Linked DNA regions of Homo sapiens: all the other regions are reported to be linked to region 4. Evidence: microRNA targets listed by miRTarBase, many of them from high-throughput screens and not tested one by one. Region 4 holds a microRNA gene; each other region holds the end of a gene's coding sequence. Distances are from middle to middle.
The links. The annotated mature microRNA hsa-miR-1294 reads UGUGAGGUUGGCAUUGUUGUCU and lies in region 4 at 2,732-2,753, opposite strand. An mRNA with a match to its seed (bases 2 to 7 or 8) in the 3' UTR can be bound and repressed. Matches are read on the target gene's strand: a 7mer-m8 pairs with bases 2 to 8, a 7mer-A1 pairs with bases 2 to 7 and ends in A, and an 8mer does both.

Region 1: the mRNA of SEC24A is a reported target of hsa-miR-1294. Seed matches in the 3' UTR shown: 8mer at 3,036-3,043.
Region 2: the mRNA of ZNF774 is a reported target of hsa-miR-1294. Seed matches in the 3' UTR shown: 8mer at 2,121-2,128.
Region 3: miRTarBase lists PEX11B as a target of hsa-miR-1294. Seed matches in the 3' UTR shown: 7mer-m8 at 3,136-3,142.

Annotation. Positions count from the first base shown.
Region 1 is chr5:134,724,520-134,728,519 of GRCh38, reverse strand. SEC24A (SEC24 homolog A, COPII component) reads right to left here. Exons shown (of 23, transcript NM_021982.3): 23 at 611-3,540. The coding sequence ends at 3,426. Among named protein-coding and RNA genes, the nearest start is that of CAMLG, 12 kb to the left of the region's middle.
Region 2 is chr15:90,360,597-90,364,596 of GRCh38, forward strand. ZNF774 (zinc finger protein 774) reads left to right here. Exons shown (of 4, transcript NM_001004309.3): 4 at 1-2,251. The coding sequence ends at 687. Among named protein-coding and RNA genes, the nearest start is that of ZNF774, 10 kb to the left of the region's middle. RefSeq lists a silencer at 2,281-2,575.
Region 3 is chr1:145,908,464-145,912,463 of GRCh38, forward strand. It overlaps PEX11B (peroxisomal biogenesis factor 11 beta), which reads right to left. Exons shown (of 4, transcript NM_003846.3): 4 at 2,887-4,000. The coding sequence ends at 3,698. ITGA10 (integrin subunit alpha 10) reads right to left here and starts at 1,587. Exons shown (of 30, transcript NM_003637.5): 1 at 1,500-1,587. The coding sequence starts at 1,551.
Region 4 is chr5:154,345,385-154,349,905 of GRCh38, reverse strand. It overlaps MIR1294 (microRNA 1294), which reads right to left and starts at 2,800; the gene lies at 2,659-2,800. The region is part of intron 4 of GALNT10 (polypeptide N-acetylgalactosaminyltransferase 10); the gene reads right to left. It also overlaps the pseudogene RN7SL655P.

The DNA of each region.
Region 1 (4,000 bases), 20 Mb from region 4:
ATGCCCAGCTAATTTTTGTATTTTTAGTAGAAACGGAGTTTCACCATATTGGCCAGGGTGGTCTCAAACTCCTGACCTCAGGTGATCTGCCCGCCTCGGCCTCCCAAAGTTTTGGGATTACAGGCATGAGCCACCACACCTGGACTTTTTTTTTTTTTTTTAGATGGAGTTTTGCTCTTGTTCCCCAAGCTGGAGTGCAATGGCACGATCTGGGATCACTGCAACCTCGGCCAGGGTTCAAGCGATTCTCCTGCCTCAGCCTCCCAAGTAGCTGGGATTACAGGCATGCGCCACCATGCCTGGCTAAGTTTTTGTACTTTTAGTAGAAATGGGGTTTCACCATATTGGCCAGGCTGGTCTCGAACTCCTGACCTCAGGTGATCCACCTGCCTTGGCCTCCCAAAGTGCTAGGATTACAGGCGTGAGCCACCACGCCCAGCCTACTTTTAAAAACTATTTTGTAGAGACAAGTTTTCGCCACCTGGCCCAGACAGGTCTTCAACTCCAGGCCTCAAGTGATCCTTACACCTGGGCCTCCCAAACTGCTGGGATTACAGGTGTGGGCCACCATACCAGGCTCATATCACTTTAAATAACTAGTCACTATATATAAGCTCTTTTCAATTAACTTTATTGAATAGCCAAGTTGATAAGTTAGCATAGATCAAACAATGGTCTGCATGGGTTACAAATGACTTTTTTTTTTTTTTAACAGGAATAAAACAGTGAAAATTACAAACTGTAAAAAGGAAGACAAATCTTGTCTCCAACTTTTCAGAGAAGCAAGATTTAACACAGCACATTGAAGATCAATACATATTTGAATTTAAGAACAAGAATTTAATATTACAATATTATACACTACTTTACAAAATTAAAATTTCTATATAAGGATTACATTTGTAATAGTTAACAAAATTTTGAAATCACATTTGGTGGTCCCCTAGATAATAGCTGTTATGCATCTTTGATTAGAAGAAATAAATCTTTATTCTAATTATTGCAAAACAGTCTATTAGACTCAATACATTAAATTAAAAACAGTGAAAATATATGCAAACTAAAATAAATGGTACTGCTTGAGTGACTATTAGTATGTCAGACTTACAGAAATGTTATTTTAAAAATCCTAGAAATTAGAAAAATAGAGTACTTTTTATGGTAGAACTGCCATGCTCAGATTTAAATACCAAGATTGCCCTTGTCTGTTACATTAGTAGTTGTAGATCTGTAGAAAATTCAAGGATCTTTCATAATTTACAACTATAATTAAAAAAAATATGGCATAGTGTAAATATTAGTCGCTTTACATCAAAAAGTAATACAAGATGATATGGCAGGTAGTGCCCTATTGGGGGAAAAAAAAAGAATCAAACTAAAAAACACATTCAACATTGCAAAAAATAATTGCCTTATATCAGTATCTCCAAAGGCTCATTCATTCTCTCATTATGTGGAGAACAAATATTGTGAATCCTAACTAAAGTTATGTTTTTCATGACCTGTTATAAAATTATTCTGAATTGCACATGTTACACCGTATCTAAAATAATATTTAAAAGTAAATTTGTGAAATATACTAAAAAAGCATGTGGTAATAACAAGAGTCATACCCACTTAGGGATGTAGTGAGGCACAAGGAAGATTATCCCTAAAAGCACAAATGTTTCCCTCTAGAAGATTCTTTACTACTAAGAAAGGACCTACAAATAACTCCATTTAAAATCACATTAAGAGGAACATTTTAGTTATTTTAAGAAACATCAGCATATAACGACTGTTTCTTTAAAAGAGGGGATAATATAATTCGCTACAATTTGAAAATTGCTTCTTAATAGATGAAGCAGCTTTCAAGAAAACTTCCAGTTCAATGTGCCACTTACACACTGCAAACCAACCTTAACACTGCTTAAGGGAGATATTTTCATAAAACATGATTATTTTGATCCAGCTGGCAAGCAGTAGTTGTATACTGTAGAGGGACTGCTTCTTCCCTATCCCAAACAACTCAGTTAAAGTCAGCTCATATTGATATAAACCTGGAAGTTACTATTCCATTGGTGATCATATAAGACCAAGATTGTAAACATTTTCTAACCCATTAAAACAAAACAAAAAACCCAAAAATATTTTGATCAAGTATTATACATGAACATATTTAAGAAATTCTTAAGACAAAATGAATCTGTGAAAACTGAGCCAAACTCTTAAAGATACTATGTCACAGCACTTTAAATATACAAATGTATAATTTACCTATTTGTAAACAAAATTCACTCAATAGTTTTGACTATAATATTTCTCTAGCTGAATCAAGAAAGCAGTCTCTTAAGGATTTTCAGAAGTCAAGTTTCTTTCATAACTTTAATATGTTGGATGTGTATAATCTTAATATCCACCAAATCAAACAGCAGCATTTATGCTTTCATAGATTTTCATATTCAAGCATAAATATTTCTTATGAATGACTTCCAATTTAACAATTAAACTCCTTAGAAAAATGTTACTGATGTATTTGGATAGCACTTTAGAAACCTTTCATTTCTTCACTCATTTCACCAAAAACCCCCACTTTTATTATATACCCAGAGCAGAAATGCACCAAATAAAATCCACTTAAAGGATCAAGATAATTAAAGTTTCTTATCTCCCTATTATCATTGCTAGTCCCAGTGTTTATGAAGACAGCTCAAATTCTTTTCACTATAGATTAAGACAGTATGTCCAACTCTTCATCAGGAAATCAGAAAACCACCTAATGATAGTTCTCACTTCAAATCAAAGTGACTTTGTTCTTCAAGCATAAAGAATACTGACAGATTTTAAAGCTTGAATGTGTTTCTTCATATTTTTCTCAAGCTATACTAGAATTAGTTTAGTTTTAGTCAACATGATCCTTTCCCTTAACAAAGAAAAAAAAAAGACACGTGTGGGGAATGAATTCTAGTTTTCCTACATTATATTTACTTTCCATTGTTTTTATTTTAAAAACATCACTACCAATCAATTTGTAACTTCCCTGCAACACTTAGGTTTGTGAGGTTTTAAATGTAGCAGCCAAAGATTCAGAAAAATTAAAAATGAGAAATATACATGTAGAACACAGAAATCTTTATTTTACAAAATGTACTTTGCCTCTGCAATATTCTTATTTTAATCCATAACAACTCAAACATAATTGGCAAGAAAAAAGTATCCAATCATACGTAGCTATATTCTGATTTGAAAAATACAGTATTTCAGAGTTGCATGTTTGATTCTCTGCTGTGGTCTTTTATTTGCTATAGGTTGTTGAAATCACAGTGAGAACATCTCAATCATCACATTAGTCCACAAACATAATAGAAAAAGAAGGTATTACACATTTCCAGGTATTCTGCACTATCGTGACATTCCTTAAAAATAAGTCAAATTTCTTCATTCATTCATTTATTCACTTGTTGCTGTATATGCAACAGGAATTCATAATATGATAATGCAGATTCTGTTCTGTCTTCTATCATGTTTTGAAGGAAGTTTGCTTTCATTGGACTCTCATCCCTTAGGAATAAAAGGCAAAAAAATTTAGATAAAATGTAGCAGTAAAATAGACTTGTCAGAAGGCTTTTGATTTCCTCATAACCCTAATAACATTTACTATATAAACAGTTACTTCTAGAGGCTTTCTCTGAGAATACTTGGTTGATTATGTAAATTTCAAGTTGTTTAAGGGAAAAGCTTATGGTGGAATTAAGAGAAATAGTTGATCCAGAAATTCCATTTCTGAATATATATCCAAAGGAATTGAAATCAGTATATCAAAGAGATGTCTGCACTTCCATGATCACTGCAGCATTAATCACAATAGCCACGATATGGAAATAACTGAATGGATTTTTCAAATGTGGTATATATATACAATGGAATTCTACCGAGCCTTTTTTTTTTTTTTGAGATGGAGTTTTACTCTTGTTGCCCAGGCTGGAGTGCAATGGCACGATCCTGGCTCACCACAACCTCC
Region 2 (4,000 bases), not on the chromosome of region 4:
ACCCACACAGGCGAGAAGCCCTACGCGTGCCTGGAATGTCACAAAAGCTTCAGTCGAAGCTCAAATTTCATCACTCACCAGAGGACCCACACAGGGGTGAAGCCTTACAGGTGTAATGACTGTGGGGAGAGTTTTAGCCAGAGCTCGGATTTGATTAAGCACCAACGAACCCACACGGGAGAACGGCCCTTCAAATGCCCGGAGTGCGGGAAGGGCTTCAGAGATAGTTCTCATTTTGTAGCTCACATGAGCACTCATTCAGGAGAGAGGCCTTTCAGTTGTCCTGACTGCCACAAAAGCTTCAGTCAGAGCTCACATTTGGTCACGCACCAAAGAACACACACAGGTGAGAGACCTTTTAAGTGCGAAAACTGTGGGAAAGGATTCGCCGACAGCTCCGCCCTCATTAAGCACCAACGAATCCACACCGGAGAAAGACCCTACAAATGTGGAGAGTGTGGGAAGAGCTTCAATCAGAGCTCCCACTTTATTACCCATCAGCGAATCCACTTAGGAGACAGGCCCTATCGATGTCCTGAGTGTGGCAAGACCTTCAATCAGCGTTCCCATTTCCTCACACACCAGAGAACGCATACAGGAGAAAAACCTTTCCACTGTAGTAAATGTAACAAGAGCTTCCGTCAGAAAGCGCATCTTTTATGCCATCAAAACACCCATTTGATTTAGGAAGTAGTCTTTGGTGTTCAGCTGCTCCCTTGCACATTTTCATTGCTACTGTCTTCAAGCACCCCAAATAGAGAAAACCTGGGCGTCAGTGGCTCAATTTGGGCCCTGATCTATTCTCCCTCTTTCTTGTCTATGTTATAACAGAGAGGATAAACTTAAAGGGTCCAAATAACGGTCCGAATACAAAAGGCATTCCTTCAGTGTGTGACTGACTCTTAGGGAAATGTGAGTTTAATAGTTGATGCCCGCCAGGCGTGGTGGCTCACCCCTGTAATCCCAGCACTTTTGGGAGGCCAAGGTGGGTGGATCACTTGAGGTCAGGAGTTGAGACCAGCCTGGTGAGCATGGTGAAACCTCATCTCTACTAAAAATGCAAAAATTAGCTGGGCATGGTGGCACGTGCCTGTAGTCCCAGCTACTCGGGAGGCCGAGGCAGAAGAATCATTTGAACTCAGAAGGTGCAGGTTGCAGTGAGTTGAGATCATGCCACTGCACTCCAGCCTGGGCAACAGAGAGAGACTCTGTCTCCAAAAAAATTAAAAAGTTGATGCCTAGTTACTAAATGAGAAGTGAGAAAAATGTGGCCTAGAGATCACATGTTCACCACCTAGTACAGTGCCTGGCACAACATAGATGCTCAATAACTAAATGGTCCCATCATTATTAATGATTAATAGTTGAGGTCTTATATAAAGGCTTTAATGCAGTACCTGGCCCTTAAAAGACACTCAGTACAAGATTGGTGGCTTTTATCAGTCTTATTACTCAATTAGAAATTTATTAGTGTAGTCCCCCCGCCCCAAACTCAGAACGTGAAAGAAATTAGATTGGAACTAGAAGGTTTGGGGTTGGAATACACAAATTGAATAAAATGGAAATGCACTGCCAGTTCAGTGCTGTGCAGGCATTAGTCACCAGAGGTCTCACTGCCATGACAAGGCCAAATTATCGTAGAGGATGTTTGCGGTCTTGTGACTTGGAGGCTGAAAGAATTTCAGAAGCTCTTTTAAATGGCAGTGTATGGCAGTGTATCTACCAGAGGTTTGCTGTCATCTGACACAGAGAAAATATCCTACAATGAACAAGCCAGAGGGACCTGGTAGAGGACTATAAAATTGTGGAAGCAAAATTGCTGAGAATGTCAAATGATATTACAGGGATCCTCCCTGGCATTTAGCTGAAGGAAGCAACTCTTGTTTTCTAATTTGCTGGGTCATTGGCCATTTAGTTTTAGGTTAATATAATTCTCTGATCCTTTTAGGGCCATCCAGGTTATGCACTAGTACATTCCTACATTCAATTGAAATAAATTGAGGGACGGCAAGTGTGTTGGAAAGAACACCGACTTCATTGAGAAGGTAAAGTATTTGAGTCCTGGCCCTGACGCTTAATTTGGCCAGACTTTCATCTTCTCCCAGCCTCAAGTTTTACCTACCTCACAAGGTTGTTGTGAGGATCTAAAAATACACACACACACACACACACACACACACACACACACACTTTGTTGGTTAACTATAAATGTAATATCTCTATGTTATAATTCTGTTGCTAATGTCTTTTTTCCAAGAAAATTTTGGCTAATATTTCTTTAGGTATTCCTTTTTCTCTCATAGTGAGGGATTAAAAAAAAAAAAAACTGTTGAAAAATTAGGGCGTAAAAATGCTAAATGACATGACTCATCATGGGCCACGTAGTTAACAGAAGAGCCAGATTTGGCTGCAAGTCACTAGATTTCCAGCCTGCAGTCCTCCTCTGCAACAACAGACCAGCTCTGGGATTTGTTACAGTGCCTGTGAGACATTACAGGACTGGAGGACCCATATTATATCCATTAAACCAGTCTGAATTTGGAAATGATGGAGGGTGTAGTCTAAGTTGTAGGGAGCTTTGCAAGAACCTGTGCTGGGGTCCTTGATCCTGGTGGAATGGGGGTGGAGGAGTGAGCGCAAATGCAAGGGGTTAAGGAGGGAGCTGGGTAGTTATCACTTTTTAGAGTGCAAAGTGGTGGATTAAAGGTTTCTTTTCTTTCATTCTCTTCCATTATATGGAATGCCATCTGAGTGCTGTGGCTCATGAAGGATAGAACTCAGCTGATAACCTTACCTCAGTTTTTGAAAGCATCATTAGATAATTGACCAGAAAATTTTTTTTAGTTAATCCAGTGCAGTGGTTCTCAAACTGTGAGCCCAGTCCAGTAGCATCAGCATTATCTGGGAACTTTTTAGAAATGCAGATTCAGGCCGGGTGCAGTGGCTCACACCTGTAATCCCAGCACTCTAGGAGGCCGAGGCGGGTGGACCACCTGAGGTCAGGAGTTTGAGACCAGCCTGGCCAACATGGCAAAACCCCACCTATACTAAAAATACAAAAATTATCCAGGTGTGGTGGCATGTGCCTGTAATCCCACCAATTTGGGAGGCTGAGGCAGGAGAATCACTTGAACCCAGGAAATGGAGGCTGCAGTGAGCTGAGATCACACCTAGTCTCGAACTCCTCACCTCAGGTGATCTGCCTGCCTCAGCCTCCCAAAGTGCTGGGATTACAGGTGTGAGCCACCGTGCCTGGCCACCTATCATTTTGTTTGTTTTTCATGTTGTTCAGCTATTGTAAGATGTGAGGGTTTTTTTGTTTTTTGTTTTTTTTAGGTGAAGTCTTGCTCTGTTGCCCATGCTGGAGTGCAATGGCATGATCTTGGCTCACTGCAACCTCTGCCTCCCAGGTTCAAGCGATTCTCCTGCCTCAGCCTCCGGAGTAGCTGGGATTACAGATGCATGTCACCATGCCCAGCTAATTTTATATGTTAAGTAGAGACGGGGTTTCACCATGTTGGCCAGGCGGGTCTTGACCTCCTGACCTCAGGTGATCCACCTGCCTTGGCCTCCCAAAGTGCTGGGATTACAGGCGAGAGCCACCTCACCTGGCCACCTATCACTTTGATTTTCATGTTGTTTGGCTATGGTAAAATGTGAGCTCTCGAAGGGCAATGTGAGATTTGCTTTGTGGCCCTGCCAATCCCCTCCCTCCTCCCTGTCTTCCTGCCCACCCCCCCCCACTCCCCCGCCAGCCATGAGCAGGGAATATTTCAATGCTATTGCTGAGAGTGGAGGTAACCCTTTCTATAGTTTTCTTTTGTTTCTACCTCATGACTAGATGATTCACTGCTTGAACATGCTCCACACATCCGTTCTTTCTCACTCCAAAATTGAGGTCATCACCAAGCCCCATTAATTTTACCTCCCAGATTCCTCTCGAACCTATCTGTCAAATCTGTCCATCTTCACTGCCACCCTTCAGTACCAAATGACCAGT
Region 3 (4,000 bases), not on the chromosome of region 4:
TCCCCTACCTACCTCCATGGTTTCCTCAGCCTTCAGCCCATTCTAAAGGTGCCCGACCCTAGCTAATCTTCCCTTTTGACCCCAATGCCTTTAAAATCAGAGCTGGTATTTTAGGAAACAATGATTACAGGGCACTGCCAAGGAAAAATTCCAGGCCTCTTGTCCTTCCCATGGTCCTTTCCCCAACTATGTCTTGCTCTGTACTTCTAAGCAACCCCCTCTCAGGCTACCCCCTCACCATTACCAATGGCTATAGCTTTATCCCAAACCATGCTCATTTTCAGAAAGGTGTTTAGTATGTGAGCAGTTTTGCATCCAGAAAACTGGCAGGGCTGTATGACCAGAAACTGCAGCTCATTGGTTAGATAAACCCAGAGTTCTGACCACATAGTTAGTCAGTTATGCCTCAGGCCCCAGGGACCACCAAGGGTAAGAAGTTAGGGAGGGGATAATAGGAATCAGACTAGCCACGTGGAAGGTCACATCACATTTCTTTTTTGTCTCCTTACCCCTATAGGGCTTAGGATGAAGATTTTATATATTTAGATACAAATCTCAGCCAAGCATGGTGGCTCATGCCTATAATCCCGGCACTTTGGGTGGCTGTCGGGGGCGGATTGCTTGAGTCCAGGAGTTAAAGACCAGCCTGGCCAACATAGCAAAACTCTGTCTCTAAAAAAAAAAAAATTAGCCAGGCGTGGTAGCACACGCCTATAGTCCCAGCTACTCGGGAGGCTAAGGTGGAAGGATCACCTCAGCCTGGGAGGTTGAGGCTAGAGTGAGCCATGATCATGCCACTGCACTCCAGCTTGAATGACAGAGTGAGACCCTGTTTCAAAAAAAAAAATTAGCTGTGCGTGGTGGCGCGTACCTAGTAGTCCCAACTACTGAGCTGTGGTTGCACCACTGCACTCCAGCCTAGACAACAAAGTGAGACCCTATCTTTAAAAAATAATAATAATTATTATATACAATATATAACTATATAATATATAATTATGTTATATATTATATGTATATTATATATAATATATAATTATGTTATATATTATATGTATATTATATATAATATATAATTATGTTATATATTATATGTATATTATATATAATATATAATTATGTTACATATTATATGTATATTATATATAATATATAATTATGTTATATATTATATGTATATTATATATAATATATAATTGTTATATATTATATGTATATTATATATAATATATAATTATACATTATATATTATATAATTATTAGATACAAATCTTACACAAGGTCCTAGGCAGCTTTAGCCCCTGCCAGTCTCAATATTCAAACAGTCATATGTGAGGGCATAAAAATGCACAAGGACACAGACACACATACAAGAAATGTACAACCAGTGTTCGCTTCCTAACCTAAATCCCAAAGAATTTTAACTATAATGGTCCCAATTCCAAACAATCTATGTATCTTCCATCCCCACCAGAAACCAAGAAGTTAACTTCCCTCACCTGTCAGGAACACCAGGGGCAAGAACAGGTGAGTGACGAAGGGGAGTTCCATGCCTGATCGGTTTCTGTCCAGTATGAGAAGTCCTCTGGCCTCTGTCCCTCTCCTTTTCTGTTTTCTTCACTTTCCCTCCCATCCTGCCCCCTCCCAATGGCAGCTAAAAATAAAGTTGGAAGGAATGGGAGGAGTGATGGTGGGGAACTGTGGGGAGCCCCAGACCAAGGAAAACACTGAGCGATCTTAGTCTATTTCTCTGCCTTGGTGCTGCCCCCTGGAGGCCTCATCTCTATATCCAGAGAACATATTTTTTTGCCCATTTCTGCTATTTCTTTTTTTCTACTGTTTATTGTTGCCAGGTCAATAATGCTTTCCTCAAATTTGGAACAGGAGTGGGAGATGGATTCTTTTTTATAAGAAAAGAATCTTAAACTTTTGTTTAAAAGTTTTAGACAAATTATTTATATTGAGAATACAGACAGGGTTTCACTATGTTACCCAGGCTGGTCTTGAACTCCTGAACTCAAGGAATCCTCCCACCTCAGCCTCCCAAAGTGAGCCACTGCACCCAGCTGGGAGATAGGAGATAGATTCAGATTTTTTTTTTTCTTTTTTAAGGCAGAGTCTCACTCTGTCACCCAGGCTGGAGTGCAGTGGCACAATCTTGGCTCACTGCAACCTCTGTCTCCCACGTTCAAGCATTTCTCATGCCTCAGCCTCCCAGGTAGCTGGGACTACAGGCACATGCCACCATGCCTGGCTAATTTTTTATTTTTAGTAGAGGCAGGGTTTCACCATGTTGGCCAGGCTGGTCTTGAACTCCTGACCTTAAGAGATCCACCTGCCTCGGCCTCCCAAAGTGCTGGGATTACCGGCGTGAGCCACCACGCCTGGCCGATAGATTCACTTCCTAACCTTATTTATCTCAACCTGGAATATGGAAAATGAAAGAGCTGATAGCAGTGGTATCATTTCCCTACCCACCCAGGGGAGTCTCAACTTGTGAAGACACAGCTCCAAATCCTTACCAGCCCCACTCCACTTGGTTCTGTCCTTGGCTCTTAGCCTATGCTGTCATATGGCATTCTGCTTCTTAGAGGGATTATATCTGAACTGGTATGAGATGTGCTTTGTGGAGCCAGGACAATAACTTTAGTATTAGACCACTCCTCTGCCACCCCAACTCCTCAGCTAGGTTATAAACTTCTTAAAGTTGGGAGTGTGGAGCTTCTTAGATTTTTGGATGCCCACTAAGTATGTTGCTTTACATACTGTAGGTGCTCAAGAAAAATAATGTGGGTGATGTTAGTGGCTAATCCCGAGAAAAACCCAAACCACAGTGACAGGAATAGGGGCCTCAAATTACCAAAAAATGAGGGACCAGACCAAATGTCGATGAGCAAACTGAACTTTAATTTGCTTACCTGAAAGGCTTGCTCTTCATTATTGGCATAGGCCACAGCTATTTACACAGAATCATTGTACAGGATTTACAGCAAGATGCTACACATAGCATCATTCTGGATAAGCGACAAAGGAGTAAGAACAGACTGGGGAATAAAGCTCTGAAATCAAAGTGTAAGCAGAAATCTGAAGGTAGGTGTACAAGGAAGGATAAGGGCCAAATGATGAGCGAGGTTGGTGAGGTAGACATAAGGGAGGAAGAGGAAACATCCAACAACTTGTGGTGCAGAGATATAAGGGAAGAGTCCACTGGCACATAGTCTTAAAAATTATGTTTGGAGTTTGAAGGAGGAAAAATCTGCCATAAGCCACCTCTGTGAGAAAAAAGAAGGCAGTTAGAACCTTACAGGCCAAACCTTATACCTCCCCTATCAAAAAGTAATTCTGCTGATTAAATCCCTGGATAGGAGAATGAGAAGGTTGAAAAAAGAAAGAGAGAGATGCATAGACACAGAACCTTAAACAGAGTTAAGAGACACAAAGTAAATATATTCAAGAGAGACACAAAGAAAGAGGAAAAGAACAGAAGCTCAGGCACATCTAGAAATTAGAGACATCCTATTAACTTCACGAGTCATCTTTCCTTACCTCATCTTCCCCAAAGCTCTTCCTCCACCCCTAAATCTCTGAATTTCTAACTTTAACCAAAGAGTAGAATTCGAATGAGGCTGGCACATGGGGGACGATCTAAGATTCCATCTCACCAATTCAGGTCCCCTCCTTATCCTGTACCGGAAGGTCAGGGCTTGAGTCGTAGCCAGGGATAGATTAGGGTGAGAATAGACAGGATGGAGGACACGAGGCCACAAAGCCCCACAATCCCAGGGCCACAGCGCCAGAGGCCTAGTTTGTCCAGAGGAATGAAGAGATCACAGGCATTTCTGACCACGTCTAGCAGAAGTGGGGGATGACCTCTAAGGACTCGAGCCAGGAGCAGGACTTGCAGCCGAAGTTTCAGAGCCAGTTGGGGCAGACCTCCTCCTGGAGTCCCTGGTCCCCCAAGTCCCCCAGTTTCACTTCCTCCTGGGACTCCTCCTCCAGA
Region 4 (4,521 bases):
GTAACAGACAACACAGCTCCTGGAATTCAGGAGGGACCAGGGCTTATGGTTCTTCTATAACTGATAACCACGGTGACCAGACATCCTGCATTACTGGTCTCAGCTCTAATTTCAAATAGTCTGTTCCCACTGACTCATAAACACTAACATACTGAAAGCTAAAAAAAATTTTTTTTTTTCAGAGATGGGGTCTTGCTATGTTGCCTAGGCTGGAGTGCAGTGGCTATTCATAAGCACAATCCCACTACTGATCAGCACAGGAGTTTTGACCTGCTTTGTTTCCAATCAGGCTGGTTCCCTCCTCTTTAGGCAACTTGGTGGTCCCCTGCTCCTAGGAGGTCACCTTATTGATGCCAAACTTAGTGCAGATACCCGATCAGCATAGTGCACTAAAGCCCCAAACTCCTGGGCTCAAGCTATTCTCCTGCCTCAGCCTCCGGAGTAGCTAGGACTACAGGCACACACCACCTTGCCCGGAGAAATTTTTTAAATGTCTGGAAATTCTGATATTTCAGAATTTAAATTACAACTCCCAGACTACTTTTTCTACCTGGAATCTTTGTCAGATTATGGGTCTCCTTGGGGATCAGGAAATGATCTCCAGGCTCAGCAGGGAGGACAGAGGTACAGTAACTCAGGAGGTACAGCCTCCTGACAATCACTGCTCAGGACTGCTGAGAGACCATCCTGCCTCAGTGCTTTTGCTTATGCTGTTCCCTTAGCCCAAGGAACCTCCTTTACTAGGCAATGACACCTATCTAGGAAGCCTTTCCTGATTATTTTTATTTAAAATAATATAAATAAAGGGTTCGCTGTCTCTGTGGCCACTTAAACATGGCTCATAAAGTCTAACCTCAAGTGAGAGCCTTGAGCCACCCCCTTAGGATCTATTTAACCCGTACTTTAGATAATACTTGAAAAACTAATAACTGGGTTTCTTATTCCAGCTGAATTGAAATGGCAAATTAGAAAGCGTACAAGCCTTCTAGGGACAGACACACTGGAGGTGACAAGAAGTAAACATCATCTAAGAGTTTGCAGTAAGGGAGAAGATTTAGAAAAAGATATAACTGATATTAAGACATTGAAAAGTTATCAATTTATAACTCTTAAACTCTAGGGAAGAGGTGAAGAAAGTCATCATAGGGTCCTAGGATTTAAAGCTTGACAAGATCTTAGAAGTCATCCATACTTTGTAGATGCAGACACTGAAGCACAAAGAAGTGATGTAATTTGCTCAAGATCACAAAGCTATTTATTTACTGGTAGGGCTGGAACCAAAGCTTGTCTACTTGTTCTCATACCAACACCTAGAAAAGTCACTAATGGATGTTCTACTCCACAATGCCACTGAATTGATGAGGTATTTATGGAGGAAAAACAATAATTCCCTACCCCTCTACACAAAGATATTTTCTCTTATCACTGATGACAAACTCTGGGAAAGAATACCTCTCCATAGAGAAGCAGGTGTCAAAAAGGAAGAATAAAACAATAGTTGGCATTTATAGCTTTATGGTATGAATAGCGCGACTTGGAGGTGATGTAATATTTGAAAGGGCCTTCTCTAATTGGGGTAATTAATATCTAAGATGGTATTACAAATGGACAATGTGACCAAAGGCTGTAATAAAAATGAAATCCCCCAAACATATGGCTGTCCATCAAAATGCAAATGACAGAAGAGAAACAAATGACTGATGATATACAAATGATTTCAACGCTCTGTACATCACAAGCCATTTATTTTGGGGCTTGAGCCGTGGAGGAAGAATAATACGATTGATCTAAGGCAGCTATGAACCACCACTGATAAATAAATGTACATCTTCTGGCTCTATGCAGGAACAGGTATTCAGAACAAGGTGGTTCACACAGACAGACAGCTCTTTAAATGATACCTTGCAATTACATTACAGCCTTCCAGCAGATAATAAACCTTCAATGAGAGCCTTGAGCCACCCCCTTAGGATCTATTTAAATTTAAAATTTTCCAGTGACATGAAGGTTGAAGGGAAAGAAAATCAGACTCTATTTTAGAGGGGAAAAAATTCTCAGCAAATCAAACTTGGGGATTGATAGCCAAGTAGAAAAATGTCTGGTTTTTCATTCCTTCTCCTTATAGGTGAATATTTTGTCTGGCTCAACCTGGTCCCTGATTTTCAAAGTCAAAGTGCTAAGAGTGAATGGTTCTATGAGAAATAAATGAAGAAAACATAAGGCATTAAATCCTTAGAAGTAGACTGGGTGTGGTGGTGGCTCACGCCTGTAATCCCAGCACCTTGGGAGGCAGAGGCGGGAGGATCACTTGGGCTCAGGAATTTGAGACCAGCCTGGGCAACACAGCGAGACCTTGTCTCTACTAAAAATTAAAAATTAGCTGGGTGTGGTGGTGCATGCCTATAGTCCCAGTTACTTGGGAGGCGAGGTAGGATGACTGCTTGAGCCCAGGAGTTTGAGGCTGCAGTGGGCTATGGTTGCATCATTGCACTTCAACCTGAATGACAGAGCAAGATCCTGTCTAAAAAAAAAAAAATCCTTATAAGTTATTCCTATCACCACATAGGAGGTAACAGGAAGTAGTGCATAATAGTGTATCACTCTTGATCCAAATAAATTTGAGTTTGGATTCTGACTCTGCCATGCGCTTGTCCAGTTTACACCTTCCTAATCCTCAGTTTCACCTCACTGAGTCCTGTGAGGTTGGCACTGTTGTATATCAGACAATGCCAGACAACAATGCCAACCTCACAGGACTCGGTGAGATCATAAATGAACAGATCTTGGCACACATTAGGTGTTAATAAATGGTGACATTTATTACTGTTCTCATATATTATTATTAATGATGGTTTAAGTTTGGGATCTTCAATGTGGAACTAGAAAGGAGGATGAAAGAAAAAGAAGGGATGAATAAACACAGAATTTCCTAGCAAGGAATATGATGGTATCAAGGTTGATAGATGCTCTGAGCCAGCCACTGTTCTAAGCTCTCTACACAAAATATCTCAATTAATCTATAAAACTCTGAGAAAGTAGCCCAGTTTTACTCAATCAGGCACAGAGAGGTTAAGTACTAGCTCAAAGTCTGCTGTCTGACTAAAGCTTGTGTTCTAAGAACACAAGGATTCAAAGCCCAAACAACTTAAGGTTTAAATCTTCCATTTAGCTTCTTTAAAAAAAAAATTGGCACAACTGTGATTTACACTGTTATAAAAGCAGTACTACCTATAGGAGAGTTGCTGGTCATAACATTTGGTTCCTGGTACTGCCAAGGCGGCTCCTGTAATTAAGTTAGCTACAGACACAGCACATTGAGGTATGTCCAAAAAACTTGTCATGAGATGAAATGTCTTTGTTAGATGACTAAAAATGTTCAGTCCTGCTGAAAGTATGTACTGCATGTGCTGTGTTAGCAATTAGCTAAAATGTTAAGACAGGGCAGATACTTGAATGCACTAGTCAAGAAATGTTATTAGAGAATGAGCTTTGGCTCATATTTTCCATACAGCCATTATGGAAAACAGTATGGAGGTTCCTCAAAACGTTAAAAACAGAACTACCATATGATCCAGCAATCTCATTTCTGGATATATATCCAAAGAGAATAAAATCACTATCCTTAAGAGATATCTGTACTGCCATGTTCATTGCAGTACTACTCCCAATAGCCAAGATATGGAAACAACCTAAGTGTCCACCAACAGATGAATAAAGAAAATGTGGTGTGTGTGTATCTATCTCACACACACACACACACACACACGCACACACGAATATTATTCAGCCTTAAAAAAGAAGGAAATAGCCAGGCATGGTGGCTCATGCCTGTAATCCCAGGCACTTTGGGTGGCTAAGGTGGGTGGATCACTTGAGCCCAGGAGTTCAAGACCAGCCTAGGCAACATGGTGAAACCCTGGCTCTTCAAAAAATACAAAAAAAAAAAAAAAAAAAAAAATTAGGCGGGTGTGGTGGTGCACAACTGTAGTCCCAGGCACTTTGGGTGGCTGAGGTGGGTGGATCACTTGAGCCCCAGAGTTCAAGACTAGCCTGGGCAACATGGTGAAACCCTGGCTCTACAAAAAATACAAAAAAAAAAAAAATTCGCCGGGTGTAGTGGTGCAGGCCTGTAGTCCCAGCTACTCAGGAGGCTGAGGTGGGAGGATTGCTGGAGCCCAGAGAAGTCAAGGTTGCAGTGAGCCATGACTGGGGCACTGCACTCCAGCCTGGGCAACAGAGTGAAACTCTTTCTTAAAAAAAAAAAAAAAAAAAAAAAAGGTGGAAATTTGCTGCTTGTAACAACCTGGATGAACTTGGAGGACATTATGCTAAGTGAAATAGGCCAGACACACAAGATAAATACCGCATGATCTCACTCATATGAGGAATCTAAAAAAAGTTGAACTCATAGTTACAGAGCAGAATGGTGATTTCCAGGGGCTCCGGGTGGGGGAAATAGGGAGATGTGGGTCAAAGGGTACAAACTTTCAGTTCAAAGATGAGTAAGTTCTGGAGACCTAA